Linked DNA regions of Homo sapiens. The protein of the gene in region 1 purifies or fractionates together with the protein of each later gene. This does not show direct contact. Each region holds a gene or a part of one and is shown on either strand. Other genes may lie near its edges.

Region 1 (2,978 bases):
AGGGAGCTGGACTTCAGGGAGCCTGAGTGATGCTTTCCCAGGAGCAGGGCAGCTGGCTGGACCAGAAAGTAGAGGGCCCATGGGAGTGACTGCACCCTTGGTGGCTGCTGGAAGGGGAGAGGTTCTCAGCATCAGGCCACCTCCACCCCAATGCCAGGATAGATGTATTCTAGAGTAGGGGTGGAGGCGGCCCAGGAGGCTGAAGACAGGTGCACAGATGCTTCCCACGACCTTGCCATTTGGGGTGGGCTCTTCAACATCTCAGGCTGTGGCTGGAACAGGACAGGATGATCTAAAACACACGTACCATTGGCTGTAAAACAGTATGAGCCCAGACTGACGCTGAAATCCCTCATGAGCCAACCTTAGCTACAAGGTAGGGAGTTCTGAGGGAAGCCGCGTGCTCCTCAGGAGAGAGCTGTTTAGGTTTTCCGATCTTTTTGCTCAGGGGCCAAACACTGAAGGCACGTACTGCCCAACCCACTGAGCGCCTGAGGCCATTCCCTCCTTTTCCGCATGCCTCCTGCCTCCTGGGCTATTCCTCTCCACCCAGAAGGCTGGGAATCCCAGCTGATTCCCTGACAGGAGCCGACTTCACACACAGGTGACTCTCAGGCATTGGCTCATGTTTTCAGCCAGGGATAAACCATCCCTTCTTGGGGCTTTAAGTCCCTGGGGAGCTTTCCCTGTAGGTCTCCTGGGTGTTGAGAGACAAGTTGGAGACCAACCTCCAATGAATGAGCCGCGGTCATTCATTAATTCACTCACGTAATTTACTGAGTAGCTGCAACATGCCAGCCTCTACGTTAGGTTCTGCGGATAAAGGAGGAATAAGACAGAGTCAGGAGAACTGTTCCTTGTGGTTTCCGTCCCTTGGGGACCACAGGCATCAGCAGTCCCATTCAAGTCACCTGAGGCAAAGTGTCTGCATCTTCGTCCAGCGACCCTTTGCTTTTCGGCTCCTAGAATCCTTAGAGTCTGAATTCCTTTAGCTGGGAACAGCTGTCATGGTCACCCCTGGATAACATTTGCCACCAAGTATAGATGCTGGATCTTGGGTTCCAGGCAGACATCATCCAGGTCCATCTGGAACTTTCAGTGATAGCTGCCTTCAGCCAGCATCTTTGGGGGACTCTATAATAGCAGCTTGAGATCAGTGTCTAGAAGACTGTTCTGCAATTTGCTGCCAAATGCATCTCAGGTTTTTAAAGTCATTGTTTCTTGCTCATGGTGGCTCATTTATTACATAGTCCCCTCACCCCACTAATGGATAATGGGAGGAAAAGTTGCTGCTTCCTTCAGCATCAAAGCCTTTCCTTGGGAATCTGCCTCCCTCCATGGCAGGGGTGGATTCGGGAGCTGGGAGTAACCAGGCAAAGTCAACCAGATGCCTAGCTCCTGCTGAGACCCAGGTCCTATGGCAGCTCCTCATTAGATTAAAGGAGACCACTTCCAAAGCAGGTGCTGCATGGCTCACCATCATATGCCCCAAACAACTGAAAGTTGGCGGTTATCACCAGACTGTGAGTTTCTGGCAAGTAGCTTGGGGAAGCTGAATAAACTCTAGGCCCAGGGCTACTAAAGACTTCAGGATAGAATTCTCCATCAAATATACAGCATAAGTAAAACTGCTCTGCACTGTTTAATCCATTTCCAAGGGGCTTAGAAAAGCTAACAAGGGTGTGTCCCCTGTCCTGCCCCACCGGTTTGCTGGCTTTGTAATAACATAAGACCATTGTGGTTGTTGGTGTCAGATACCTTCCCATCCTGAGCTCTCTCACCTACCTGCTCTCTCTCCTAGAGCAGGATACTGGGGTACTTTTAAGAAGGGTGCTCCTTTTAAGATGCCCAGAAAAGCTGTATTTAACTCTTGCTATTTGTAACTTGGGGATGGTCTCCCCTGCCCCAGGGCACATAAGAGCAAAGGCTCCAATGGTCAGTGGATGACTCTGCAAAAGTGACCCCCTGTGCCAGAAGCTATAGCCCTCTCCCCAACAGGTCTCTCTTGTTGGCCAGAGGGCCTGCTTCCCATGGGCATTGCAAGTGCCACCGTGCGGGGCCTGGCTCTGCACACCCAGGAAAAGTCTGCAGACCCCCAGCCCTCCGCAATAATTCACCAGACCAGAAGCCACTGGTGTACAGAGAACACTTAAAAAAATGTATTTTATGTGAAAAAAAATTAAAACTCTGTATACTGTATCAGCAGCTTTGTGTAAAAATGGCAATCAAGAGAGTCTAATATATTTAAAACTTTTTTAAAAAAAATCTTCGCAGATCTTTGATATCGTACTGAGGTAACTTCCACGTAGCCCCTTGCCACGCGGCACCGGTGGGCCTTGGGTCCAAAACTGTGGCTCAGCCACATCCCAAAGGGGGCACATGTCCCTGGAGTTGCTTCCAGCTGCCAAGGCCTGTGACAGAATTCGCTGTTAAGAGTTTTTAATTAAAATTATTAAATTCCTTTTAATAACACCTGCTAGTGTGAGTGATTATTGCTGTGAGCTCACTTGAACAGTGCTGACTTGAATTCACAAAGAGGAGGTTCCTGGAATAGAGGGTGGGTGAGAGCTCCTAGTCTCTTCCCCCTTACCCCACCCCTTTCCCACAGAGGGCTTTCCCATGAGACCCCTGAAATAGAGGGAGCTCTGGGGGCTCAGACCTGGAGCAGATGTCTCCCCAGACTAGGAGATGGTGAAAACTGATGAATTCAAGAAAAGGTGGGTGGTTGGGAATGACCTTCATTCTGTCAAATAATCTCTTTGAAATTAACATGAGGCCGTATAGTAGCATATATTTATTCCATACATTTTCAAAGTTTTTCCTGATATTTATTTATTTATTTTTATTTTTTTAAGATGGAGCCTCACTCTTTCACCCAGTCTGGAGTGCAGTGGCGTGATCTCAGCTCACTGCAACCTCTGCCTCCCGGGTTCCAGCAATTCTCCTGCCTCAGCTTCCCAAGTAGCTGAGATTACAGG
Region 2 (3,650 bases), on another chromosome or scaffold:
CCGAGGGGACGTGTTCCAGAAATTCATTGAGAGGTGAGAGCAGGGAAGTGTGGGAGAGGAAGGGGGAGGGAGGGGCCGCTCTCAGAAGGGGTATGGCTGGCGTGGAGGGCAGAAGCCAGCCTTCATTAGGCCCTGAGCAGGCAGGTGGCTGGCCCGTCAGCGGCCCCCTTGCAAGGACTCCTGAGAAGTCAGACAGGCTGCAGGTCATCTCCCACCCTGCCCTCCTCAGCACCAGGCAGCTCAAAGCCCATCCCAGGCAGTCTCCTAGCTCCAGGGAGCTAGGAGAGCTGTGCCACCTGTGCCTCTTTCTCTCCCGTGGGCTGTATAGCACCTTGCTGGCCCACCTGGACTGAGAAGCATCAGAGTCCTGGTAGGGGTAGGCCCAGTAGAGCGCATGGCCCCCGTGACCCTCACAGCCAGAGTTGGCGCGGTGGGTGGGAATTGTAGGTAGATTTCAGCCAGCTTTAGGGAGCAGCTGTTTTAGGGTCACTGCTGCCCAGCCATGGAGTGAGCTCTGTGTCACTGGGGGTATGCAAGCAGGGACAGGAGACGTACTTGTCAAGGATATGGTAGCAGGAAGTCTGGGTTAGACTGGAAGACCTCCTTTCTGTGCGGATCTGATTCCAGCAGGAAGCCACGGCCAGGTGGCCGAGGGCCATGCTGGGCACCCAAGCAGCCCTGACTGGTGCTGTGGGCGGGCAGGCCCTCAACATATCCTTCCTGGAAGAGGACATTAACGCTCGTGATGTTTCCACACCTACCCTCACGGGACCCCAGGGAGTGGCGGCTGGGTGGGGAGGCTCACGACAGCATCATCCTTCCCACATTCTGAGTGGCCCCTGAGCCCTGATTCTTCTTTTCCAGCGATAAGTTCACACGGTTTTGCCAGTGGAAGAATGTGGAGCTCAACATCCACGTGAGTGGGCTTGGGTGGGGCATGGAAAGCCACGCACCCTGCTGCTCCTCTCCCGGGAGCTGGGCCTGTGGCTTGGCTGGGAGGGGGAGGTCAGGGGATGTCTGTCCTTTAGCCCCCAGGGCCGTGGCTATGGGGGTCAGGGCCGGGATCCCAGCATGGGGAGGCCGGAGCAGGTAAATATGTGGCAAGGATGGCCAGGACATGGGTATGGGGACCCTGGCATGGGGCCAGCCCCTGCTGCCCAGGTGCCTCTGCCCCAGGGCTGGGCAGAGGCAGCCTGTGGTGACCGCAGCTGTCGCTGCCCCTCAGCTGACCATGAATGACTTCAGCGTGCATCGCATCATTGGGCGCGGGGGCTTTGGCGAGGTCTATGGGTGCCGGAAGGCTGACACAGGCAAGATGTGAGCACCCTGCTCGGCGCGGTGGGATACCTCGGGGAGCCGGGCTCCTGGGGGACCCTGACAGGCCGGGTTCCACACAGGGCCACCTGCTGCTCCATGCACTCCTGTCTTGCCGTGCTGTTACCCCCGCAGGCTCCTCTGGCCCCAGCCCTCCCTGTCTCTGATTTGTGTCACACGCTGGTCCTGGGTCTAGTCTTTCCCTCAAGCGCCCCCTGAGGCAGCCCTGGGCCCCTGCTCTGAGGGTGGGTGTTGACTGCCGACCTCTGCCCCGTAGGTACGCCATGAAGTGCCTGGACAAAAAGCGCATCAAGATGAAGCAGGGGGAGACCCTGGCCCTGAACGAGCGCATCATGCTCTCGCTCGTCAGCACTGGGGTGAGCTGGGTGGGCCGGGCTGCCGCTGAGGCTCTGGAACCCCGGGCGCCCCTGCTAACTGCCCGCCCCCTCCCCTCCTCTCCCCTCCTAGGACTGCCCATTCATTGTCTGCATGTCATACGCGTTCCACACGCCAGACAAGCTCAGCTTCATCCTGGACCTCATGAACGGTGAGTGCTGGCCGGGCCCTAGGGTGGGCCGGGCCCAGGCACGGGAGGCTGGGGCAAGACACTGAGTGCTGCCTGTGGGACTGCCTCCCTCAGGTGGGGACCTGCACTACCACCTCTCCCAGCACGGGGTCTTCTCAGAGGCTGACATGCGCTTCTATGCGGCCGAGATCATCCTGGGCCTGGAGCACATGCACAACCGCTTCGTGGTCTACCGGGACCTGAAGGTGAGCGCCCCTGCTGTCCCCAGGCTGGACCTCCGTGGCTGTCCTCTCCTTCCTCTCGACATCCCGGCCACCAGGCCCAGAGGAGTGGGGCTCCTGGGACATGGCCGCCCCGTATCTTCCCATCTCCGCCCCTGCCCTTCCCACCGAGCCACTCTCTGGGTCCAGGTTGTAGCTGGGGACAGGAGAGAGGACCCCCACCTTTGCCCTTTCTTTGGGTACCCATCGTCCTCTCCAGTGAAGCAGTGACCCAGCTGGCATCTTGCCTGGCTGGGCCCCATCCTGAGCTGCCCCAGGCAGCTCACTGGGCTTCCTTCACAGCCAGCCAACATCCTTCTGGACGAGCATGGCCACGTGCGGATCTCGGACCTGGGCCTGGCCTGTGACTTCTCCAAGAAGAAGCCCCATGCCAGCGTGTGAGTGCCCCCCACCCTCTCCCTCCCCACCCCTTGCCACTCCCGCTTATGGCCCCCTTGCTCCCACAGGGGCACCCACGGGTACATGGCTCCGGAGGTCCTGCAGAAGGGCGTGGCCTACGACAGCAGTGCCGACTGGTTCTCTCTGGGGTGCATGCTCTTCAAGTTGCTGCGGGGGTGAGTGGCCCATCCCAGGTGGGCAGGTGGGTTGGGGCTAAGAGAAGTTCCTCCCCAATCCAGGTGGGATGCCAAAGGAGGGGAGCCCATAGCTGCCTTGGTGGTAGGGTTGGCACCGTCCCTGACTTTGGCCACAGCTCATCCATGCTGCCTGCCTCCCTTTCCCCATTCCTGTCCTTTGACATTGGTTTTTGGCCTTTCTTGCCCAGGCACAGCCCCTTCCGGCAGCACAAGACCAAAGACAAGCATGAGATCGACCGCATGACGCTGACGATGGTGGGTGCAGGTCTCAGTGCAGGGCCGCAGGGGGCTGGGGGGAGCTCCTGTGGGTGCCAGGCCATGACTCTTGCTTCCCACCAGCCAGCAGAGATCTGGGCCACTGACCCCTACTCTGGCCTCTGAGACAGACCTCCTGCCCCATAGGCTCTCGCCCTCCCCGTGCTGTTGGAGCATGACTGCTGGGCGAGCTAGGATGCTGTGCCCCATCTGTCCCTCTGCGGGGGCCTGGACCCCTCTCTCCCCTGAGCTGGGATGGGGTCAAGGGCTCTTCCTAAGCCCCTGCTAATGTCCCACTCCTCTCTAAAGGCCGTGGAGCTGCCCGACTCCTTCTCCCCTGAACTACGCTCCCTGCTGGAGGGGTTGCTGCAGAGGGATGTCAACCGGAGATTGGGCTGCCTGGGCCGAGGGTGAGTACCCTGGCGCCTTGGGCATGCTGCTGGCTGTGCCCCCATGAGGACAAGGGCTGTGTCCCGTCACCTGGAACCCCCTCCAAGGTCCCAGCCTCCTTGGAGGAGCTCATAAGTTGGGGCATGGCCAGCCCTGTCCAATGTTCTCAGAGTGGAGGGGCTGCCCTGGGAGTTGGAGCTGCTGGAACCAGCTAGTAACTGGCTTCCAGAGGGGCCCTTGTCACAGATGATGATGATAGCAGCTTTTTATGTTTATCAAACATTTATTAAGCACTGGGCATAGGGTTGC
Region 3 (3,650 bases), on another chromosome or scaffold:
TGGATGTGAATTCTCATTGACATGTGTGGGTTCAGTTGACAGGCGGGTCGAGTCTGAAGAATCCGGCGATGAAGAAGGGAAGAAACACAGCAGTGGCATCGTGGCCGACCTCAGTGAACAGAGCCTGAAGGATGGGGAGGAGCGGGGGGAGGAGGACCCAGAAGGTACCAGGCCCAGCTCCCTTGGGGACATCTGCTGGTTGGGGGATGTGGGCTGTGCTGCACGTGGTCTGGCCCTGGGTGTGGGTGCTGTGTCGGTCTGGAGAAGGACTGCCGTGCTCCTTAGGGGTCCTCAGTGGCCCAGGGCAGGTGGATATGCTCTTTGAGGTGCTCCTTCAGCAGGCTGACTCATTGATGGCGTTTGCAAAAAGGATGTGGTTTTTTCCAATTCCACTGAAGGCAAATCCTAGCACAAATATGGGTACTAGTATGCCGTCTGAGACAGAACCATGACATTGTTGGCCAGATGCAGTGGCTCATGCCTGTAATCCCAGCACTTTGGAAGGCCAAGGCGGGTGGATCACGAGGTCAGGAGATCAAGCCCATCCTGGCCAACATGGTGAAACCCTGTCTCTACAAAAAATACAAAAATTAGCTGGGCGTGGCAGCGTGTGCCTGTAATCCCAGTTACTCAGGAGGCTGAGGCAGGAGAACCGCTTGAACCCAGGAGGTGGAGGTTGCAGTGAGCCGAGAACACACCACTGCACTCCAGCCTAGGTGACAGAGGGATACTCCTTCTCAAAAAAAAAAAAAAAAAAAAAAAAAGGAAAAAGAAAAGAACCGCAATATTGTTATATTAACCATATGTTTAGGAAATGAGATTCGAAATAAATGTTATGGCTGACTGCTGTGTTTCTATGTCCTACCATAGCAATAGAAACCTTTAATCTCTGAGAGAAATTATTTCTGAGTCTTGCCTTACCATTTTTATAGGCCTGAGGATTGACTTCTAAAGTGCCTAGATGTGGCCGGGCGTAATGGCTTACGCCTGTAATCCTAGCACTTTGGAAGGCCAAGGCGGGTGGATCACTTGAGGTCAGGAGTTCGAGACCAGCCTGGCCAACATGGTGAAACCCTGTCTCTACTAAAAATACAAAAAAAAGAAAAAAAGAAAAATTAGCCAGGCATGGTGGTGTGCACCTGTAGTCCCAGCTACTCAGGAGGCTGAGGCAGGAGAATCGCTTGAACCAGGGAGGCAGAGGTTGCAGTAAGCTGAGATCACACCACTGCACTCCAGCCGGGGTCAGAATGAGACTCCATCTCAAAACAAAAAAGTTTCTGAACAGTATGCATGCATGTATGTACTTTTACCTGCTAAAGAAAGAAAACACATCAAACGGGCTGAGTCTGTCCAAACAGCAGGTTTAAGAAGGATCTATACATTTTGTGTTTTCTAGATTTGTATACAGTGTATGAATAATCATGCATCCCTTATGAAAATAAATTTATGAAGAAACAAACCTAATTTTTAAAATAACATTGTGCTCTCTGTGCCAGCAAAGATGATTGGTAACTATGGCAACCTACTTTTAAGTCACAAGGAGATTACCACAAAAGTACCAGTCACATTCACTTTGGAACTTTGAGGCTGATGTTCTGGAAGTGATGTGGGTGGAATAAAGTGCATGGGAGTGATAGATGGAAGCTTCCGTCATCGCCTGACTTAGTCACCAACAGTGGAGCGGTAGGAGCCCCCGCTATCCTCAGATGGGTGCTGCTGAGACATTGGGTGTTTATGGAGGACTTGAGAGTTGGCAGAGCAAGCCTTGTGTGCTTTCTTTCCCTGGCTCACTAGCACAGGCTAATCATGTTGTCATCATGTTCTGTAAGTACACCAGTGTGGTAATGTGTTATAGATGAGGAAAATGAGACTCTCTGCAGCTTGTCCAAGGGCACACGGCTACAAGGCAGACCAGCTGGCCTGGCCTGGAAAAATCCAAGTTTTTTCTTCGAGATGATTAGCTGATTATGAATTTTCTGGGAATATGCATTTCTAGCCCTTAGAGGAGCCAAGACTTGCTCCTACCTGTATTTATTTAAGTCTTAAATTCAATTAAAACAAATTTAATCATGTCAACTGTTACCTTCTACCTATTTTCCTTAAATTATTTTTAAAATATGATGAATATATAATACACTCAGAAGGGCATTCTAGGCTGGAAACCTTGTTTCAGAGGTTAGCTGACATTTTGAGTGGTGAGCGGCCAGCCCTGCTGGCTGTATTACAAACAAGACCCCTTAAAGCCATGCGACCGTGTGTCCTGAGGAGCCTGGCACAGCCCGTTTCTGCCTGCTGGCCCAGCATAACTGTGCCCTTCTGCTCTCAAAGGGTCCTGGTTTGGACTACATGACCTGGGCGCCCTGCCTTAATTGTAGCACCTCTTCCAGTGCAACTTCCTGAGTTTATGAACGGTGACTTGACACTGTCTTTTGAGGTGATTTGTTATCTATCTCTTGGTTTTGCCCAGTTCCTTTTATTTAATTCTTAGGTTGGTATCCTTTACAGTTGTGGATAAACTATAGTAAACTTTTTTTTTTAACTAACCACAGTTGATGGTTATAGAAAAGGCATAGTGGAAAACAATGAAGTGAATGCAACCATGTGGGATCATGACTTTGTTAAGCTGGTCTGATGTCAGGTGCTCCTCTCAGAGGCCTCCAGGTGAGAGGAGGAGCCAGGCTGGAGGAGCCAGCCCTTGGCATGGGGTCCAGGGCTGTGTGAGCTCACTCCCCTGCAGAAGCAAGTGCACGTTTGCTCTAGGAAGAGCCACAGTAACAGCACTGACAGCCCTGTAAGGTAGTGACAATGACAATCTGTTTACAGGAGAAAGAACATCCTATGCATATAATTCACAGACTCCAGACTGGGAGAAGCACTACAAGACAAACAGCTTGTTTTCCTACAACAGAAAACTGCAAGGGGAAAAAAGAAATTTAAGAAAAATGCTGGGCTGGGTGCAGTGGCTCGTGCCTATAATCCTGGCACTTTGGGAGGCCAAGGTGGGAGGATCACTTGAGGCTAGGAGTTCCAGACCAGCCTGGGCAACATAGCGAGACCCTGATTGTACAAAACATGGTTTTAAAAAATTAGCCAGGCATGGTAGCACACACCCGTAGTCTCAGCTTCCTGGGAGCCTAAGACAAGGATTGCTTGAGCCCACAAGTTCAAGGCTGCAGTGAGCTATGATCACACCACTATACTCCAGCCTGAACAGCAGAGTGAGACCCTGTCTCTTAAAAAAAAATTAATTTAAAAAAGTTTTTTAAAAGAGAAATACCATCTAGTCACAATATACAGCCTTATTTGGATCATAATGCAAGTAAACTAAGGAAAGAAATGTTAAGACAGTTGAGGAAATACGAACACTGACAATCTTTGGTGATATTGAGGAATTACTGTTAATTTTTTTAAGTGTTTTGAGGGGTGAGTGTGCGTGTTTGTGTGTCTGCATGAGTCTGTGTATACCACTGTTGTGCATGCGTGTGTCTGTGTAGTGTGCATACGTGCCTGTGTGTCTTTGTGCATGCGTGTGTGTGTGCATCTGTGTGTGTCTTAGTCCTTTTCAGCACACATGCTGAAGTAGGTTCCAATGAAATGAAATGAGGAAGTGCTTAACAGGGAAGCTGTCGCCTCAGCAGGGAGAGCAGCTC

The links.
Region 2: the proteins of PPP1R16B (region 1) and GRK2 purify together in Homo sapiens (affinity purification with mass spectrometry; 2 studies listed by BioGRID and IntAct, with this or other methods). This does not show direct contact.
Region 3: the proteins of PPP1R16B (region 1) and PPP1R7 purify together in Homo sapiens (co-immunoprecipitation; 3 studies listed by BioGRID and IntAct, with this or other methods). This does not show direct contact.

Annotation. Positions count from the first base shown.
Region 1 is NC_000020.11:38,920,553-38,923,530, forward strand, and holds the end of PPP1R16B (protein phosphatase 1 regulatory inhibitor subunit 16B isoform 1 precursor), read left to right. Parts: 3' UTR 1-2,472; downstream 2,473-2,978. UniProt on the Homo sapiens protein: Regulator of protein phosphatase 1 (PP1) that acts as a positive regulator of pulmonary endothelial cell (EC) barrier function. Involved in the regulation of the PI3K/AKT signaling pathway, angiogenesis and endothelial cell proliferation.
Region 2 is NC_000011.10:67,279,868-67,283,517, forward strand, and holds part of GRK2 (beta-adrenergic receptor kinase 1), read left to right. Parts: coding exon 1-33; intron 34-864; coding exon 865-916; intron 917-1,225; coding exon 1,226-1,317; intron 1,318-1,591; coding exon 1,592-1,691; intron 1,692-1,782; coding exon 1,783-1,861; intron 1,862-1,954; coding exon 1,955-2,085; intron 2,086-2,403; coding exon 2,404-2,498; intron 2,499-2,567; coding exon 2,568-2,675; intron 2,676-2,884; coding exon 2,885-2,951; intron 2,952-3,260; coding exon 3,261-3,361; intron 3,362-3,650. UniProt on the Homo sapiens protein: Specifically phosphorylates the agonist-occupied form of the beta-adrenergic and closely related receptors, probably inducing a desensitization of them. Key regulator of LPAR1 signaling.
Region 3 is NC_000002.12:241,153,441-241,157,090, forward strand, and holds part of PPP1R7 (protein phosphatase 1 regulatory subunit 7), read left to right. Parts: intron 1-35; coding exon 36-164; intron 165-1,577; exon of another isoform or gene 1,578-1,824; intron 1,825-3,650. UniProt on the Homo sapiens protein: Regulatory subunit of protein phosphatase 1.